Linked DNA regions of Homo sapiens: region 2 is linked to region 1. Evidence: fine-mapped expression QTL. Tissue or cell type: sun-exposed skin. Region 1 holds a variant in brackets; the other region holds the start of a gene. All regions are shown on one strand. Distances are between the middles of the regions.

Region 1 (2,752 bases):
TGTCTTCCTTCCTCAGCACTGAGCTGCCCCCAATAACTCCTAAGGATAGGCTGCTGTAGCCAAGTTTCTAAGGGGCTCTGCACCCCACCCTCACCCAGCCACAGCAGATTGGCCTTGGGGTGGACACTGGCCCAGGAGAAACCATTCCAGAGGTGAGGTTGAGCCAATCCAATTCTCTTGTGGGGGAATCTGGAATACAGACATGGAGAAAATGGTTCTGTTAGCTTCATAGTGCTTTTGTCTCTGGTTGACAGACTCTAACTGTTAAGCAAACGTTTAGTAAGGTTAAATAATTCCAGCTGACCCAGGAAAGAAAGGAACTGAGACAGCTTGAGACACAGAGCAGTAGGATCTCCTGGGCTGCCACTAACGTTCTAAACTATTCATTGTGTCTTCCCTTTCTGAGTTCAAATTTGCATGAGAAACCGGCTGGCTCAACTTGGGTCAGGTGTCTACCCTTGGGACAATCAGTTCCAACCAGGGGCAAGATCACATGGGCAGAAATAATTCCTGGGGGCTCACCTTGAGTTTTAGGTGTCTTCCCAGAGAAGGGGGCATTTTGAGGGCCAGGTAGCCACATTGAGAGGTACCTAGGGGGGTTACCAAGATGAAGACAGAGCAGACGAAGGCGGTGTGCAGAGGCAGAAGGGAGAGAAACAGAGGCAGGAGATGCGGCAGAGACTGGGAGGACAAGGAAGGGGTTGCCCTCACATTGAAAGTTTAAGGGTGGGCTTCAACTCACATCTTGGAGTCCCGTCCTCTGTGGCCATCATCTGAGAGGCTCTTGATAAAATCATTTTGCACATGTTCCATTTATTGCTCCCCTCATGAGAAGACGTAGCTGCCTGTGAATCTGACAGCACTTGTGAAGCTGGGGTGGAAGGAAGGATTTGCTGTTATCTGATCATGACCATTTTTGCCTGGCTATGCAGGCAAGGGCTACTTTGCTAAAACTTAATTCTAAAGGTGACTGCATCTGTTTCCACCTCCCACTGCTGCTTAGCTTCCACTGGCTCCTACAAACTGAATATAAAAAACTAAGAGACAAGTGAGCATCGGCACCCCTGCTGGGAAGGGCCCACTTTTCCCATTCAAGTTGGGGTATCAAGGTTTTGAGAGCTCAGAATATGATGAAGTGCACAGCTACCACCTCTCTGGGATGAAAGAACTGAGTTGTTCATGTACTTCCTGGCATTTCTTAC[C/T]GTCTCACCAGTTTCTGGCTTGGAGGACATTTTGCTCAAATTCTCTGCAAACTACCTGCAGCTGTGGCCCCTTGGAAAGCATGGTGACCTGAAAGAATCAGGACAAAAGGAGAGCACCACAGGGCAGTGGGTGCCAGGCGTGTGGAGCCACCTGAGCATGGGACACCCCTCGGGAGGGACAGTCAAGCAGAGGAGAGAAGGTGAGAGTGTTCACCTCAGGAGATAATGAGTGATATGTATGCGTCAAAGGTGTTACTGATATGGAGGGTGGATATGGGGAAACTTTTAGGAAAGGGTAGTTGCTTTCAGGTTGTATTTTTGAAGGCAAGGACAGCTGCGGGTTGGTGGGCAGCACAAAGGTTACATGCAGGTAAAAGACAAGCCCAACATCTGGGCATGAAAGACAGTTGGCTGTAAGGGACCTGTGCAGAGTGGGTTGGGAGAGGTCAGGACTGGTCTTTAGGAATCTGCCAGAAGGAAATGGCTTACATCAGAGATTCAGAGCTGGGGCTGGAGAGAGAAGATGAAATCCACATGATGCCACTGACCATTAGCAGAGAGGAAAGACAGGCAGTTGGCCAAGCTCAGCCGTGGACCAGGCCCTGCTTGTGTCAGAGCCAACAGCCCTCCAGGCCCCTGTTGATTGTGAATTGACTTGAGGGTGTCTGGGAGAGGCCCAGGCCTGAGTGGGTGGAGGAAACGAAGCCAAAACCCAAGTGAGGTTTTGAAGGGGTCTATGAAAAGACCAGTGTCAGGAGGAACTGGGTTCTAAGGCAGCATCATGTCCCTCCTTTAGGACTTGCTTTTCTCTGTCCACTTGGTAGCAGTGACAGATTGCTAGCAGATGTTTTTGCACAAAATGACCCTGCCCACTGGCCCTATTGATTGTCTCAGGAGTGGACACAGTCTCTGACCTTGGCTAGGGGAATTCCTTCCATGAGCATATGGGATCAAGGCTAAAGGATTCCAGCTTCTGTTTGGGATGGATCCTTGAACAGAGTGAATGTAAATACTGGGGAGAAACGAGCAAGGTTTCCTCCATGTGTCTGCATTGCAAAGAAAGTGACTTTGCAGAAACGGAGAGAAGAATTGGGCAGGTAAACAGATAAGGTAGGGTGGGAGGAGAGAAGCAGAAGTGCGTTTTCTTCTTCTTATGGCCTCTTCCTCAGGCCTACGACCCCTGTGGCCTTGAGTCCCAGGAGACCCCTCTACAATATCTTACATTCTTAACAGTGGGGATATTGTTCCTTAGGGGACAAAATCAGTTCTTGGGGGTCAAAAAGAGCCAATGTTTTGTGGCCCTCCAAAGGGTTATGGTCCCTAAACAGATATGTAGTACATCTGTGGTATTGAAACTTTATGGGAGGCTGGGACCTTGACAGCCAGATAAAAATGTCTGAAATAGTTCCTAGGGGAGTGATGATGAAAAATAAGTATGGGAAACACAGCTCTAAATCTTTGGAATGTCTTCACCTCCCCACTTCTTTTTCTCTGTAACTTCCAGTCTACTCAAATGAAGACAGACATCCTTGGCTGGTGGCCATGTTGAA
Region 2 (2,626 bases), 110 kb after region 1:
TTTTCATATCCACAAATTGCTACAGAATCATGGAGTGTCACTGGCTCTAAAGCGCTGCCGGTGGACGCCACCTCATTAGCTGACACCTCTTAATCACTGTGGCTGGAATGTGGGCTTCCCTATCTTGAAACCGACCGCGGGCGATCAGAGCCGGCGGCGAGTGAGAGCTGCAACCACTGCGGGCTGAGCTCCGACACCAGAATCGGCGCAGAGACAGGGGACCGACCAGGCCAACTCTCTCCACTTGGGGCTGGGAGGGCAATTACCACCGACCCCCTTGGCTTCCCATCTACGACCCCGGAAGCCTCCCCTCCTCCAGGTACCCAACCTTCTGCGTGTCACCAATCACCCGCTACCCCCGCCTCCCCGCCCCCGGGAGCGCCTCCCAGGCCAAGGCTCCGAGGGCCCCGCGCATCTCCAAGACCGGACAGGGGTCCTCACTCGCAACACCTGCGGCTGGCAGAGGGAAAATACCAAGGGTGTGGGGGAGGGGGAGAGTGTCTCTCAGCCGCCTCAGATGGTCCTTCGGGCTCCCTGGGGACGCGCAGAGCTTCGGCGGAGATGGGAGCGGGGAGGGGTTAACGCGGGAAATTAAGAGACTCGGGCAATTGGCGGTGCTCAAGTTAACCGGGTCTGTGGCGAGAGTTCTGGGGTTGGGAGCTGCCGGCCGCGCACTCGCCCCGGGTCTGCAGCCACCGCCGCGGCGGTAGTTCTAGGGCGGAGCGCTCTCCCGCGCCGCGCCGCGGGCTGGGGGCACCAGAGGCCGCGCGGAGGCCGGGGCGGGCACCTGAGCTGGCGCGCAGCCGGGGCAGGGGCTGCAGTCCAGCGCCGGGGAAGGGGCGACCGAGCTGCGTGCGTGTGCAAGACCGGCCGCCGGCGCCTCGCGCCCCGACAGGTGCAGGCGCGCGGGCTTCCCATTGGTCGCGGCGGCGGGCCCCTTTCCCCGTCCCCGCCCTCGCCAGTCTCCGGCCACGCCGCGGCGCCGGCTGGGTTGGCAGAGGCGCGTGCTCGCGCGCCCGCGCACCCCTCGCCCCGTCCCCGCCCCCCCACTCACCCCGTCCCCACCCACTCCCTCTCTCCGCGCCGCCGCCGCCGCGCGCTCGCGAGTTCAGGTAGCGGGCGCGCGGGCGCCTCCGCGGGGGCGCGCGGCCGGGCTCCCGTCCTCCCCCAACACCCGCCCGCTCGGGGGCGCCTGGGGAGGGAGCGCGCGGGCGGGGGAGCTGGAGCCGAGCGCCGCCGCCGAAGCTTCCGTCTCGCTCGCTCGCGCAGCGGCGGCAGCAGAGGTCGCGCACAGATGCGGGTTAGACTGGCGGGGGGAGGAGGCGGAGGAGGGAAGGAAGCTGCATGCATGAGACCCACAGGTAAGACCGACAGTCCCGGAAGGGTCTTCCATTCCGAGGAGGCGCGCGCAGGCCGGGGAGGGGGAGTTGGTGCCTGGTGCAGCTCCCCAAGGGAGAATTTTTTTTTTTTTTTTGACAGCGCAGAGAAATCTCACTGGGGACTGGGGCAGTAGGATCGATCCCAATCCCGAGGAAAACCAGAGAAGTAGCTGGGGGAGACGGTGCCACATTGTGAGATTCCCAGAGTGAAATGTATAGGCCCAGGGAAAAGTGTCTTCGCGGCCCCGAGACGCGGGGAGGCTCTAGACTTTCCTGTGGTGGGCACAGCTGCTGAATCCCGGGGACCGGCGCGGAGCCAATGTGCGCTAACCCCTGCCCTCCCTCCTGTCCTCCATCCCCCAGCACGCGCAGCATCCCACGGCGGCTGTTACTCAGTGCACCCGGCTCGGGGGAAGGCGGGGGACCTCGCCGTGGGAAAGGGGGCGGGGGCCGCGCGGGGGAGGAACCAGGATGGAGCCTGGGAAGCCGAGGCGCCGGGTCCCAGAGCGGAGGAGGGGGAGCGTGGCCCCCGAGCCCGGACAGACTGGCTTATTGTGGTGTTCCGCTTCTGGTTGCAGACTCTTGCAAGCTGGATGCCCTCTGTGGATGAAAGATGTATCATGGAATGAACCCGAGCAATGGAGATGGATTTCTAGAGCAGCAGCAGCAGCAGCAGCAACCTCAGTCCCCCCAGAGACTCTTGGCCGTGATCCTGTGGTTTCAGCTGGCGCTGTGCTTCGGCCCTGCACAGCTCACGGGCGGTGAGTGACCCAGCTGTGGTGGGAGGGCCTGGGGATGGCCCAGAGGGGAGAAAGAGCCTAGCTGCCAGGACAGCCCTGCACCCCTCCCCCATACACCCAGACTTCAGGAGGATCTGACAACGCGAGGGTGCCTGCGTCCCAGCCTATGGCCGCCCTTCTCCGAAACCGCTGGAGTTCCCTGAAAATTCCCATGTGGAGCCCGCACAGATTCACACACCCACATTCTGTCTGGAGCTTCCCACCAGCCTCCGGGCCTGGCTTCTCCCAAGGAAAGACAATAAAGCCTGGCCCATTATTCCCACTTTGGCCAAGGAAGCGGGGGCGGGGGGGGGAGGGGTGGGGGGTGGGGGCAGTGGGGAGTGGTGTATTTGTGGACCTCTTGCCAATGCCTTCAGCAGATAGAGGTCAGATTTCAGCCTCTGGATTTAAGCAAGAGTTTAAGAACCACCTTTGAGAATGTGAAGGGTCTGGAAACGTGGTCAGACT

Which allele goes with the higher level. Alleles are on the strand shown, and positions count from the first base shown. SD is a standard deviation of normalised expression in the study named.
As copies of T replace C in region 1, the expression in sun-exposed skin of the gene that starts at base 1,242 in region 2 goes up (small effect, 0.19 SD a copy in GTEx).

What was found. PIP is the estimated chance that this variant, and not a neighbour inherited with it, causes the effect.
Region 2: SUSD4 starts here. The variant in region 1 is fine-mapped to the expression of SUSD4 in sun-exposed skin (GTEx, PIP above 0.99).

What each region holds. Positions count from the first base shown.
Region 1 is chr1:223,469,014-223,471,765 of GRCh38, reverse strand. No RefSeq gene overlaps it. Among named protein-coding and RNA genes, the nearest start is that of CCDC185, 77 kb to the right of the region's middle. The variant C/T (reference allele first, on the strand shown) is at 1,203.
Region 2 is chr1:223,362,792-223,365,417 of GRCh38, reverse strand. SUSD4 (sushi domain containing 4) reads left to right here and starts at 1,242. Exons shown (of 9, transcript NM_017982.4): 1 at 1,242-1,361; 2 at 1,958-2,140. The coding sequence starts at 1,993.